Linked DNA regions of Homo sapiens: region 2 is linked to region 1. Evidence: fine-mapped expression QTL. Tissue or cell type: subcutaneous fat. Region 1 holds a variant in brackets; the other region holds the start of a gene. All regions are shown on one strand. Distances are from middle to middle.

What was found. PIP is the estimated chance that this variant, and not a neighbour inherited with it, causes the effect.
Region 2: CDO1 starts here. The variant in region 1 is fine-mapped to the expression of CDO1 in subcutaneous fat (GTEx, PIP above 0.99). The same link has a PIP of 0.9 or more in esophagus muscle, gastroesophageal junction and visceral fat.

Annotation. Positions count from the first base shown.
Region 1 is chr5:115,731,953-115,740,160 of GRCh38, forward strand. LOC124901048 (a long non-coding RNA gene) reads left to right here and starts at 7,092. Exons shown (of 2, transcript XR_007058907.1): 1 at 7,092-7,162. The variant G/C (reference allele first, on the strand shown) is at 3,859.
Region 2 is chr5:115,814,706-115,821,306 of GRCh38, forward strand. It overlaps CDO1 (cysteine dioxygenase type 1), which reads right to left and starts at 1,954. Exons shown (of 5, transcript NM_001801.3): 1 at 1,523-1,954. The coding sequence starts at 1,692. It overlaps LOC124901049 (a long non-coding RNA gene), which reads left to right and starts at 2,383. Exons shown (of 2, transcript XR_007058908.1): 1 at 2,383-2,466.

The DNA of each region.
Region 1 (8,208 bases):
CCTAGGTAATCATGTAGGTAACCATAATCAAATTGCAACTTTTTACTGGCTGAGGGAGGGCTGGAATTTGATCATCCATTCTTATTGACTGATAGCATATGATGCTGCTAACCATATCAACACATGAATTGATAATATCTATTTCATATTGCCACAACTTAAGCTATATCTTGTTGAAACTCCTGAAAACTACAGACATTCTTAAAAAAAAAAAAAAAAGGCTCCTATTACCCTCAGGGACTCTGGGAAATCAGCCCAATAGGATGATTTGCCAGGTCCTATAAATATTTACCAAGATGGCATTAGATAAAAGAAAGTTACAAAATAATTTGCATTGGGAGTTGTTACTTCAGCTGCATAAGCCTAAGACTCTACCACCCTAAAATAAAGTAGCCTTTTTCTTTTTAAAGACAGACTACAAAAAATGTAACTCACTTTATAATAGTTTTCCTAATATTCTCAAGGTATCAAAACCCTCCAAATATATTTTTAGGGTGTAAAATAAAATGGAAAAGAGGTACTATTCTTGGAGGCTATATATGGGGTCTTCCCTGTCTTCTGTCATGTACTTTCTTGTATTATTGTTAGTCAAGCAAATTACACCATTATATTACTTTTCGAATATAAGTTTTCTGCAAAAATATTTGTAAGCCTGTCATTGCATAATAATGATGATATTGGGGAGGAATAATATAATGATACACATGACTTTTTTCCAATATAGATGGTGAGTCTTCTAGCATTTACTTTAATATCTCTCATGTATTGAATGACAGTTGTACTTCAAGTTGTATAAGACACTTTATTTACATATATAATCTTATTAAGTCCTCCCAACAATCCTAAAACTGTGTTAATATCTATTTTTTTTACAAATGAGGAAACTGAGATGCACAGAAAGATAAGTGGCAGATCTGACTTCTGTCTTCCAAGAGTATGTTCCTTCCACTTCCTTGCCTCATTCAGGGATGTATTACTAGTTATCTTAATTTTTATAGTTCGTTAACTGTGCTTCAGCGTCTCATTTTGAAATATCTGGAGTGAAAGGTATGAGCTCTCTATTTTGCAAGGCAGAATCCCATCTTTTGTATTAGTAAGGTGTAGATCTTTAAGGAGGGGATGGACACCACCTCCCAGCTCCCCTGGACTTCTTGGCACCATTCTTCCCTCCAGTACATTTGCTCTCAGCTCCTTTCCTCCTTTACCTTCCAGTTACTACAGAGCCATACAAATCACCTATGACTATACCTGATCATCTTTTCTTTCCTTTTCAGTCTTATTAAGCAAATAGGTAGTTTTCACAAGAGCAAATCTGGAAAAATTTAACAATAATCGCAGAGACTGGCTGTAGTCTGCCACAGCCCTGGGTAATCAGCACATTTAACAATCACTCTCATGAGATATCACTGAAAGGAAACCCGAGCTTTGTCTCCCACTCTCCCTTTAAAATTTACTTCCTCTGAATGAAATCCTCCATGTTGCATGACTTTTCTGCTCACTCTTCTGAAATAGTCCTAGGGCACTTTATGTCACAAAACAGTCTCCATCCAGTAATGAGAATGCCCACTCCAATGTAACATACAAAACTCTTTCTTTGATTGTTAATTTTTTTTTTTTCATCTCCTAGCAAGGCCAGGATTTAGGGGAGAGTGGTGGCTTTCTCTCTTTCTCTCTCTCTCTCCCCGCCCCTTTCTCTCAGTGTCTCCTCTCAAACCTGCTAAGCACAAACCTCAGGCCCCTAGGGTTGGAGGGCAGAAAGGAAAGGAGTACAGAAAGTTCTTTCTTCACTGGTGTCATTCTAAAAAGTTTTGCACGATCAGGCATGGAAGATGTTTAAAACTGGTTCCCCCACAGGGACTACTGTGGGTTCTTTGGCAGTTCCCTTGATAGGTTCCTCCTACTGCAACTCTGTTTGAGAAACCAGTTCTCTAACAGTTGAACAGTTTGCATTTTGATCTGCCTCACTAACTCCTTTTAATAGTTATCCTATCTCAGAGCCTCAGTCAAGATTTCCCATTTAACATTTGCCACCATGTTCATCCTGTATATTATGGATCGCCGTTTGTTTGGTGGCTATGAGTGCAGACAATATTCCTTTTCAGCCAGTAAAACTATAAATGGAAAACATTAGCTGGCCTTTGTTACAGTACTGAAAACTTTTCTCATAATTAGTTTTCATTCAAAATTTAATTTTAACTTCAACTTGAAAATGAGGTATACTACCTCTTCTACAGGTAGTAATTCTTTTTTCAATTTGTTGTACATTTTGGTGGTTTTCAATAAATAGGCATTCTTAGCTCTGGTCATCCCATGCCTAAAATTGAAATCAATATTCTCCCCCAGCTGATGAAAATTTTCATCACGATTTACGTTTTTCTGTGTAAAAATGAAAAAGAGAGCGTGAATTAACATTCCTAATTCCCAGAAGGTATGCATTCTAACTGAAGATTACCCTGTACCATTTTTAGTCCATATCATTCATGTTGTTGATGGACACAATACAGATTCACTGTAGTCATGCGTTTTTAAATAACAGTAGCATGTTAATTGTTAAACATCCTAGTCCTTTTTTCTGTCTCTCATTCCACCCTCAGGATCATATCAGACATTCTTATGGCAACTACACCAGCATGGCAAAGACTAGAGTGAGGGAGTAAGGTATCCAGGACACAAAATTTAAGGAGGCACTCACTCTCATGGTCATACAAGCTAAGTGCCCCTTCAATTTTGCACCCTTGGTGCCTCACTCATCTCACATTAGTCCTATGCCTGGGTATCAGACCTGCATTGCTTCACATTCATCCAATAATATTCTTGAGTACCTTCTGTGGACCAAACAGTGTTCTTGGTGCTGGATGTCCAGAAGAGGAGCAATCAGTTACAAATTCCTGCTCTCAGTATTGGATAACAATTAAGTGTTGTGCTATGGAGAAAGAGAAAGCAAAGAAGGAGAAAAAGGATGTGCCAGGGTGGGGTCGGGGTTGTCAACCAAAACAGTGTTCAGGGGAAATCCTCACTGAGAAGTCAACATTTGGGCAAAGAACTGAAGGAGGTGAAATGTTTTTGAAAACTTGACGAAGTGTTCACAAAATGTTAATGAATTTGCTACCAGTAATTTGTAATAAATAAATTTCATGTAACTATCTGACTTCTCTTGACAAATCCGAAGACCTGGCAAGACAGAGCCACATTTCTGTATGACAACAACTAGATGGAGCTGAGGGAGGCTCTCCACTTTAAACCAAGCCAGGGCCTTTATATTGGGCAAGGGTTCTCCAGTTCCCAAAGTCTCCCTCTCCCTGCCTCACTCAATTTCATCACTTGTTTATTCCCTGTAGACCTTTGAGCTTGCACACTCTGGCTAGAATCCTTCAGAGAAGAGAGACCTCAAATGCTGCCACTCTCCCTTCAAGCAGCCACTCATGGTCATGGTGCTATTGCAAAGAGATGGTCTCCTTACCACACCACAGTGAAGTCACTCTACTACAAGGCAAGAAAGGCCTTGATTCCAGACTCCAGAGATGAGTGATCTTTATTTAGCTGCTTGAAGCTGAGGGGAGACAGATACTATTGAGCTGTTTTCTTGCACAGTGATTGAGATTACCCGAACATTGTAAAAACCCTGCTATCCTAGTCCACACATGTTCTATCTTTCAACCAGAGCAGCAAAAGAAAAATATCAATTCTGAGATGCTCAAGGCATAATTTTCTGTCTCAGCAAAATTTCAAGACAACAAGCTGTCACGGGCATTGGAACCCCACCGACCTGCTGGCACATACGGAGGACAGGAATTTTCCACTTGAATGAACTGCCCGTACTGTTCACCGAAACTCCCCTGAGGAAGAGATCTGTGGTGG[G/C]AGGGAGTGCTGGCAAAGAGACTGCTGTGAAGTGTAGACAGAAGCACCATTCCCTACAAGGCTGAGAGAGTCAAAGGCAGGTTGCCATAGCTACTATTGTTTAGCCTTTCCATGGCATATTTTTTTCTGCAACTATTTGCCTAAATTATAGCAATATTTTAAACTGAAGCCAAGTAGGTGAGAATGAGTTAAGATTTCTCAACTTCAACTTATGTAAAAAATCTCAACTGTGAAATTGCATCAAACCAGTTGTGTTGTAAAATGAAAATAGGTGGGAGCACTGTGACTTCCAAGAAGACATGGGGTGAGTGTGTGTTTGACAAACAGTGTGAGATTCTGATATTTCAATCAACTCCCTACATTTGCACTGGATTAAAGAAATTTCTCAAACCCCGTCTACTCTACAGAGTACTTTATGTCTCAGCTTTATTGCACAATCAGTTATAAGAAAAATAAAGGGAAAAAGAAGTATGTTTTCAAGCTTAACTCCAAGTGAGTAATGGAAAATTGAACTTTCATGTTAGTAAAAATGAAAACCATGGTTTAAAAGTTACAATAATTTTAAAAATGACTTTTCAAATAGCAATTGGGTCATTCATTTGACTTAATACTAAATTTACATCAATTGAAGGGAATTTTGTTTTACGGTAATCCTAAGAAAATTTTGAAACAAGAGACATTTCTCTTTGGTGTACAAGATTTCTCTTTTCTGTACTTTTCCTTCACCTCTAGCAGGTTCTCCTATATACTGCCAACACACAGTTTCCAGTAATTATGCTCTTACCCACACATATTTAAATATGGGTTGATGGGTAGACATAAGAACGTTATGTTCTTTAAAAAGCTCTGGTTAAAAGATTGTTGCTGCTTTTAAGAACACAAAGAAAAAAGTGTGAAGGGAAGAATGGCTGTATCGCCTTCACAAATTCTTATGATGTTTCTCCTTTTAAGCAAAGTTTTCAAAGGATGCCAATCATTTGTTAATGAAAGCTCTTTGTGGTTTTCTTTTGCAAATCAAACATTAAGCAGCAGCATCTGGCCTGCAGATTGTTCTAAAATTTTGGTACCTTTTTGTCACACCCATGGCAACAGTAGAGATGCTTTGCAATTCTGTATTCTTGTGATATCCTGAATACACAGAAGCTCTAATTATGTAGTAGACCTGACCTTACAAAAGGAAAAACTGAATAAATTGTACTTTTATTTTCCATAAAACAACTCTTCAGAGTTCTTTTTACCTTGCACCCCTTTCATTCTTTTTTGTTTACCTGTAAAACAAGTTTGCAAATGACTATTTGCCCACACACATAGCATGAATGCTAAATTAATATTATTTGCAGGAAAACTTCATTTTCGTATGGACTTCCATGCTAAAGGAGCCACAGGTGAGAGAGAGAGATTATCTAAAAATATGACTTAAGATTCAATAAAGCCATTTAACATGAACATTTTTTAAAGGCTTGAAGAAATTATTTTGGGTAAAGTCTCTTTCCAGTGCCCCAGAAACTATGACCACAGGCAATGGATTATGCTGCATTTGCTGAGGCTGACCCCGTTCACCTGCTTTCCTTCCATGAATTATTATTGAGGTATAGCAATGGTTTTGGGTGGTCCAAAAATAGGACACTAGGCCAGCCCCCGTCCTCAAGGTTATGTAGTAAGAAAACAACCATCTTTCCTCCACTTTCTGTGACCATCCTCCTCTGCCTCAGAATTCCTCTGACTTCATTTTCATTCCCTGCATCCTCCTTCCTTCTGGCAGAGGCAGAAGCTTCTCTTTTCCTGGTCTGAATAATCCTTATCCCCACATCCCCCTCCTGCCTTGACTCCTAATTCCATCCACTTCCTTTCTTCATCAACTTTCTTTTCTCCTTTTGAATGTCTTTCTCTCCTCCTGTCCCTTTCTTTCTGACTAAAAGCCTATGCGCATCATCCCTATTCTGAAAAACCCTTCTTTACAATGTATTGTCACCTCAAGTTACTACTCCAGCAACTTTCTTTCCCTACCAATCACCCTGTTAACAGAAAATCCTTAGCCAAATTAAATTAACAGAGTTTAATTAGACAAAGAACAATTCATGAATCAGGAAGCCTCTTGAACCAGAATAGGCTCAGAGAGATCCCAGCATAGCCACATGGTAGAAAAAGATTTATGGACAGAAAATGGAAAGTGACTTATGGAAAGTGACTTACAGAAAAGAGAAGTGAGGTACAGAAATAGCCAGATTGGTTACAGCTCAGCATTTGCCTTATCTGAACATAGTTTAAACAGTTGGCCCCCTTTTATTGGCCAAAACTGGGTGATTGGCACAAAAGTAGGTTATAGCCTATTTACATCTCCGTTTAAGTTATAGTTCACTATGTACAGAGAAACCTTTAGGCTGAACTTAAAATATGTGAGGAGGTAGTTTTAGACTAAACCTGATTTAAAAATTTTCCCCTTTTGGTCATCGTCTCTCAATTTTGGGAGATTGACCAAAACTTTAGTCATTGATGTCACTATCACCATTGTAAATGTGAGTATTTGGTCTCGAAATCCCCTAGGAAATAGCAGAACAGTGGGATTTGTAAGGTGGGAACAAGAACTTCAGGTTATATTTTTGTAAGGGTTAGAGTAGAGGGTACTTTCTTATGCTGAAATGTCCTGTTTACAGGAGAAAAACAAGACCTGGTCTCCTCTGGAATCTATTTCTTTAAAGCCTTAGTTTGATTATATCACATTTAGCATGAGTGTCTATTTTGGTTTGGTCTGATCTGTTGGGGCCTATTGCATGAGCTCAATCCAAAACAATGGCCTCCCATAATTTTGTTTAAAAAATTCTTCCCTTCTGGTCAAGTTCTCATTTAGTTGAGAGTATGACCAAAACTTAGGGCCTTAGTGCCACTCTTACTGTCATTTTGGGTTTTCAGTGTCAGCATATCATTCATAGGTTCCAGTGCCCTCATGGTCACACATTTCTTTCAGCTCGTCATTCCAGTTGAAAAGAGACAATTTGACATTCTAGAGATGGCTGCGTGCAAACATTTAAGGCTTTTAAGAGAATACAACACACCAGGGAGACTACTATGACTATCAGCAGAATAATACCAAGGGTTTGGAGTATGCTCTTTAGCTGGGATACCCATTAACCAAAGCAACTAAAATTAAACAGATCAAAGAATGAGCTGGGTAAACAGTCTATTTACTTTAACCAAGCAGTCTGTTCATTAATCCTCTATGACTGAATCCCCATAGTATACAATTTATTTCTCCATGGGCAACAAGACATGCCAGCAACTGCACGGCTACTTCTCCATTTAGCCAGTAAGTAATCTAGAGCAATTTTAATATTTAGCATAACTTTCACAACAGAATTTAAAGTCTGTTGTGTAACCACAGCCTTTACTATAGAATCTGCTAGAGATGCTATCATGAGAGATTAATTTTTAATCATTACCTAATTTACTCTAAATCATGAAAAAGAAGACCTAAAAATGACGCTCATCCAAAAGAATGAAGACGTCCTGGCAATTTTCTCTCTCTCTCTCTCTTTTTTTTTTTCTTGACAGGGTCTTGCTCGGTCACACAGGCTGGAGTGCAGTGGCACAATCTCGGCTCATTGCCACCTCTGTCTCCCAGGCTCAAGCAATCCTCCCAGCTCAGCCTCCTGAGTAGCTGGGACTACAGATGCATGCCACCGTGCCCGGCTAATTTTTGGTTAGAGACTGGATTTCACCATGTTGCCCAGGCTAGTCTAAAACTCCTGAGCTCAAGCAATCTGCTCACTTCAGCCTCCCAAAGTGCTGGGATTACAGGTGTGAGACACCACACCTGGCCTGACAATGTTCTCTTTAACCCATGATGTAGTTTAAGAGGAGCGGACCAAAGTTTCATTTCTGACTGATTATTAGGCAACAAATATGCCGTTAAAATTTCTTACCTACATTGTTCCTTCATCTTGCATCTATCGCAACATGAGCTTGTCCGTGTATAAGGCTGGCTGCAAAATCTTTCATAAATAGGAGTATACCCCATGAATACACACAACAGACCCCCTTTTCATTTCCATTGTTCACAGAGGCATAAGCACACATTGAAAGATACGAGTCTCATGATAGCAGAGAACTCTCAATCTGTGATTTTGGAAGAAAGCTGTCCACATCACGGATGCAATGCTTCTGGGAAGAAACTTCTCTGATTAGCTTTACTTTAAGGTTTCTAATGGGTGTACAGTTCCAAGAGTGTGGAGGGCCCTTCTGAGTTGTGAGATTATGAACCTTATGGTATCTCTATTTTTAGTTTCTTGAGGAACCTCCAAGTTGTTCTCCATAGAAGTTGAACTAATTTACATTCCCACCAGCAGTATACGA
Region 2 (6,601 bases), 82 kb after region 1:
TAAAAACTGTTACAACCTGTCCTGGTTTAACAGTGGTTTAGAGTGTAGGCTCTGGAACAACAATGCTAACCCCGGGAGCCTGGAGCCGCTATCGATAGAAGACCTAGTGCAAGTCATTCAACTTCTTCATTGCCTGCCATTCCTCATATGTGTCAAGTGTCTGGAAGAGTACCTGTCCCATAACAAGTCTTCAATTACCTGGAGCAAATGCAAGAAAATTTAAAAGCTAGACTCTCTGCTAGCTTTCACGGCTACAGAAGGGCTCTACCATGAACTAAGCTGATAGGAGCCAAAGGAATTTCCTCAAGTCACTTGTATATGAAAAATGGGATCCTTAGTGGTCTTCACTTTTTCTATTTCAAATCCTAAAATACAGTTGAAACCGCCCATGCCAACAAAACTTTACGAAACATCCCACATGTTGAAGAGTGACTAAAAGAACCTGCTCCCAAGAAAAACAAACTTACTTCTTTCCTTATTCTTTTCTTTCACTTACCCCTTTCTCCTAACCCTAAACCCAAAAAACCACAAAGACTGACGCACTAACTGCTCAGAAAAAGTAGAACCTCTCACACTTCGGGGTGATTAAATTTTACCTCTGGCCCCGGAGGATTGGTAGAGAGATTCGACTTAATCACCAAGCCGGGGCTGCAAAAAAGCCAGCTTACCAGGGCACCTCACTCAAGTACATCTGGGAAGTAGGGGTCTTTAATTTACATTACAGATCGTCAGAAGCAAGGATAAGATAAATCAGATCATTTGGGGGCTGAAAAAAACGACGGTCGAATATTTAATCTGCGAAACTTGGCAGTGGATTTGAATAAACCCACAGTCGGGGAAGTTAGTTAAATTGGTTTGGGAAAGGGAACAGCAGAAATTCCGTAGTGGCAGCTGACGGCCACAAGACGCTATTTTACATGAGTAAAAATGCTTGCTATAAGGTGCCCGGTTGCAGGCGACCGAAGGCGCAGTGATGGAGAACTGACGCGGGTGACTTGTCTTCTTCAACATCACACACTTCTCCCGATGGCTGATGTAGTGCTCCCCTGGGAGCACCCTCTGCTAGTCCGGCCAGACGGTTCCTTAAGGTGTCAGGAGGGCCCGAACCTGAGTGCGGTCTCTCCGCATCTCCGCGCCCGGGGTTAACGATGGCTTGGGAGTGTGGGCATTGCTCCCGAGGCCAGGGGCAGGAGGACTGGTGGTTTAGAAGCAGAGGGGTTTGCGGGAGAGAAGAGAACAGAAAATCTCGCAGACGCGCGGTGGCCTCCCTTCCCGGCGCCTGTCCGCCGTTCCCGGCCGGAGGTCAGCAAGGCCAGTAGGATCCACCTTCCGCCTGCGCTGTGGCCGCGGAGCCCCAAGCGAGTCGTGCCAGCCCCGCGGCTGGCCAGCGAGGGGGCGAGCGGCGGACGCAGCGCGGCCCGAGCTTCCCGAGCCAGTCACTTTGGGCTGCGTCCCCCACGTCCATTCCTCCTCAGACGGGGCGAGTGGGCGCCGCCTGGCATTGAAGCTGCAGCGCGCTCACCTGTACTGGTCGAACTTGGCGTACATTGCCCACTCGGTGGGGTCGCTCTCGTAGGCTTCCATGATGGCCTGCACCTCCTCTACATTGACCTCATCGCCGGCAAAGAGCTGGTGCAGGATGCGGATCAGATCAGCCAGGGTCCGTGGCTTCAGCACTTCGGTCTGTTCCATCTCGTGGGGAGCTGGCTGCGCGCGCGTCTCACTGCTGGGCTGCGGTGGAGGAGCTGAGCGAGCCAAGGAGCTGGGGGCGAGGGAGCCTAACAGCCCGCTAGACCGCTAAGCAGACACACACGCACAAACCCAGCATTAGAGTGCCGAAACGTAAGGATGTCGTCGCAGAGACAGCAAGAGACCCACCCCCAGGCCCCTGGCAGCGCAGTGGATCCGGGATCGCTGGAGACGCGGTGCACACACAAATCAGGTTCAGATCTGTGGGGTTCATCCTCCCGGGCCCCTTTTAAGCGCTTGGAGTCACTAGGAATGTACCAACGGCCCTCGGAGGGAGGACGAGGCGGAGAGCCACCCAAGAAAGGTGGCGGAGGCGGGGAGACCCTGCGGGCACGGCTCACGCGCACATCCCCGGCTTCCCCGGGCTCCGCGCCTTCCCAAGAGCCCCGTTGTCTCCGGCGTCCCAGGGATCGCGTGGGCTCCGCGCAATCTCTCCCCCACTTTAACGGCGCGTTTTAGCCGCCCGGCCTAACGCCTCTCCCCGCTCCACCTCCGCCGCTGTGGTTCGCGACGCTGGGACGTAGACAAAAAGGGTCGGAGGAGATGGCTGCGGGGACTGACGCTGAGTAAAGGAGGAAAAGAAAAGGGAAGGAGAGGGACACTTCTTCCAAATAGAGAATTGTGAGGAGCCTGCGAAAATTGAGGATGGATTCCACTCCTAGGCCAGAGAGTGCCTGTTTTGTCGATTGAAACTATCCACGATATGCCCCAGGCTAGGTGAAAATAAGTCCAAGACTTTATATATATATATATTTAAGTATACACACACACATATTTTTTAAAATGCGTACTGAAATATATTTTGACAAAGGAGACTCGGGTCTCTAGTAAGACAATTAGTGAAATGATGGAAAACCAAGAACTCTTTGATTTTAAAATCAAATATTTTCTTTTAAAAAATATCCAGTGCAAATAACCTGATATTTCATTTGATGGTGTAAAAGGGGGCTTTTTCTGAGGGGATAGGGCGGGCTCTGACGCAATAATTTAAGAGGCTATAATTATATTTGAATCTTTCAACCTTAGGCATGTGCTTGAAGGAGCCTGCTAGTACATACATATAAGGAAACACGTTTCTACGTCATGCATAGCACCTAGTACGTTGGGAACAACACAAATCAAGTACAGTAGGATTTAAATGAGAAAGATGTGAAAGGTGGAAGAAATGCAAGTGTAGATTTCTTCCTTCTCATTATGGATGGACGCAGGGAATAATTTGGATTTAAGGTTATTAAAGTTCTAGACTTCTGAAGACCTGTTTTTTTCTAGACTATGATCACCCTCCCTCGTGTATATACATGTATACAATGAAATTTACTTGTGCCAGGTAGTCTTAAACATCTCTGGTAAAACTCGCTACATTATATTCTAACAGTGTTGTTAAAAGCGGAATCACCTATTGTTCAAAAATGGCTACAAGTAGAAAGCATTCCAGAAGCCAGCCTTGGTGATGTGTGTTGCTGCGGGGTAGTGAATTAACAAAGTATTTTGTGACAGAGTAACCTGTAAACTTTTCATGGTTTCCTCAAATTATTTTTTATTCTTGGCAATGTTTTCTATTGAGTCTCTTAATTACTTCATTTCAGCTAGTCTAATCCATAAATGTTTGGAATGAACAACAAAAATGAAATGCAAGCACAATTTATCTTTTCTGCATTTCAGTTGATAAAACTTCTAAATTTTTCTGACAATTCATTTTCTTTCTCTGACTCCTCTTTTTCTTTTTACATTTTTATGAAAGTAATATATTCACGTAGTTAAAAAAAATCAATAGTACTGGAAGGTCAATGAAAAGCAGCAGGCCCTTTTAACCATTCCTGACCATCTGTCCTGTGCTTAAAGAGTCAGTCTCTTAACTCTTCTAACTATTCCTTGTGGTAGTTACTTCCTTTTTCCAAAAATAGGCTTATATTTTTTTTTGTTTCAGCAATTTTAGATATTATCTAGTCATTTTACATTATGATAGCTCCATTCGTTTATTATTCATTCATTAATTTATTCAACAAATGTTTTTTCGGGTGAATAGAAATTTTCATTTCACCTGAGTAAATACCTAGGAGTGAGATTGCTGGGCCATTTAGTCAGTGCATGTTTAAATTTGCAAGAAATTGACATACTAATTTGCAAAGGGTCTGTGCCATTTCACATTCTCAACAGTGATGTATGAGTTCTAGTTGCCCCGCATCCTCGCCAGGTATTGTCAGTTTTACCAATTTTGGCCAAATAGAGGTGTGCTGATATTGCATTGTGTTCTTCATTTTCTATATCTCTAATTCTTATGGGCAGGTCTTTGTTCTTAGAGCTCCCAAGATGGTGGCCACCGCTCCCAGGATGGCAGCAAGCCTTTTGTTCTCTGAACTGGGGTTCTTGGCCTCATGGATTCCAAGGAATGGAACCTTGGACCATGCGGTGAGTGTTATAGCTCTATTAGAAGCCGTGGGTCACAGAAGAGAACCGTGGAACCCAGCTACTAGTGTTCAGCTCAAATAGGACGAACCCGGGCACTTAGCCATGCAGGAACAATGGCAAGCCTTTAGCCGGATCGGGAGTGGCAATGGGTGCCTCGCTGGATCAGCAAAGCAGCGGACACCCTGCCGGATCTGGAGGGGTGGAAGTCGGTGGCGGGTCTGTGACAGTGGCAAACAGCAGTGGTGAAAAGCGAGCGAAAGCTCAGCTCGAGCCATAACAAACACAGACCAGAAGAGTGTGCAGTTGCTAGATTTAATAGAGTGAAAACACAGCTCCCATACAATGCGACGGCACGCAAAGAGGGTTGCCACTCCCTGCTTTAATGCCTGGGTTTATATCCGGATCATTGTCCCTCCCCCATGCTCTCAGGCGATATATTATTTGACTATTTCTTTACCTCCTGCTTTAGCCTAATTTGTATTTTAGTGAGCCCTCTTTACTGCCTGATTGGTTGGGTGTGAGCTGAGTTACAAGCCCCGTGTTTAAAAGTAGTTGCAGTCACCTTTCCCAGCTAGGGCTTAGGAATTCTTAGTCGGCCTAGGAAATCCAGCTTGTCCTGTCTCTCATAATGACTAATGATGTTGAGCATATTTTTATGTGATTAGTTATTTGTAAATAATTTTTGGTGAAATATCCAAGTATTTTGTCCTTTTAAAAACTTAATTATCTGTTCTTATTGTTGAGTTTTAAGAGTTTATTATATATTCTAGAAACAAGTCAGATGTGTGATTTGTATATATTTCCTCCCAGTCTGTGACTGGTCTTTTGTTTGTTTTTTTGGACAAAGGTCTTGCTGTGTCACTGAGGCTGGAGTGCAGTGGAGCCATTGGCTCACTGCAGCTTTCAACACCTGAGCTCAGGCAAGCCTACTGCCTACGCCTACTGAGTGGCAGGGACTACAGGCGTGCACCACCACACTTGGCTGATTTTTTATTTTTTTGTAGAGATGTGGTCTTGTTATGTTGCACAGGCTGGGCTTGAACTACTAGGCTTAAGTGATCTTCCTGCCTCAGCCTCCTGAAGTGTTGAGATTATAGGCATGAGCTACTGTACCTACCCTCTTTTCAACTTTTTAGATTCAGGGGTTACATGTGCAGGTTACCTGGGTATATTGTGTGATGCTGAGGTTTCTGGTACAAATGTTATTGTCACCTAGGTACTGAGCATAGTATCCAACAGTTTCAACCCTTTTTCTCCTCCATCCTCCCTCTAGTTATCCCCAGTGTCTATTGTTGCCATCTTTATGCCCATCTGACTCCACCTCTTGACCTTCAAAGACCTCAAGGAACTTTCTTAATATACTGATATTGACACATTTTTATTGTTTCTTCTCTCAACTTCCTCCCTTCCCTCACACTCAGGATTTCATTGATTGTCTGTATGTGGATGCCACCCACATTCCCTTAGTTTTACATGCAGACTGCAATCTCCAACACCTTTTGGCACCTCCGATGCAGTATGTGTGAAACTCCTTTCAAGAATGCTCTTCCAAACTCCTAAAGGTTCTATTTCTGCAATGAGGCACCCAGGCTCAAAAACCTCATCCACTGCTGCCTACTCCTTCCTTGCATCATTATCCAGACCCCATTCAACCAATTGCCAAGTTTTGTATCTCCTTATCATTTTCTCTACTTTGTATTCTTATTGCTATTCCACTATTCAAACCTCTATTTGATTTTGGCTGGATTATGGCACTGGCCTCTGAAATGGATTCCTTGGTTCCAGCTTTCTCCCATATGTATCCTTTATTCACAATTGCTTGATTTCTTAGCCTAAAGCACAGAACTGATGATGTTGTTTCCTGGTCACATTCTTCCAATAACTCTAACTTTCCTATACAATAGGTCTTATCAGGCTGGCATTAATTTTTTTTTCATATTTTGGCTGTAAACTACCTTTCTTGATATTTCGCCTTTTATTATTTTTCTTTATGAATATATCTTTCAGCCAAATTGAATGTGCTTACCAAATCCATTCTTTTGCTTAAGCTTTTCCTTCTGCTTAAATCCTAGCCAGCCATTTCAACATGTCCCAATCTTATTTTAAGATCCAGCTTTTACTTTCCTGTCAAATGTGCCATTTCTCCTCCTCCTGAACAATGGAACAATCACTATCTTCCTTAAGGCACTTACCATTTCTCAGCATGTATTGCAATTACTTACGTGGATCACTTTGACAGTGAGAACCTTTAAGACAGGCTCCTCTTAAATTTTATTTTTATATCACCATCAGGGCCTAGCACACAGTATTTTGTGCAGGTTAGGCACAAATAGAAATATTTCTTAAGTGCATGCATAAATGAAATTAGTAAAAGCATATTGGCTAGAGTTCCTCAATACTAGAGTTATTGGCTAGTAAAAGCATTCGTCTAGTTCCTCATTCC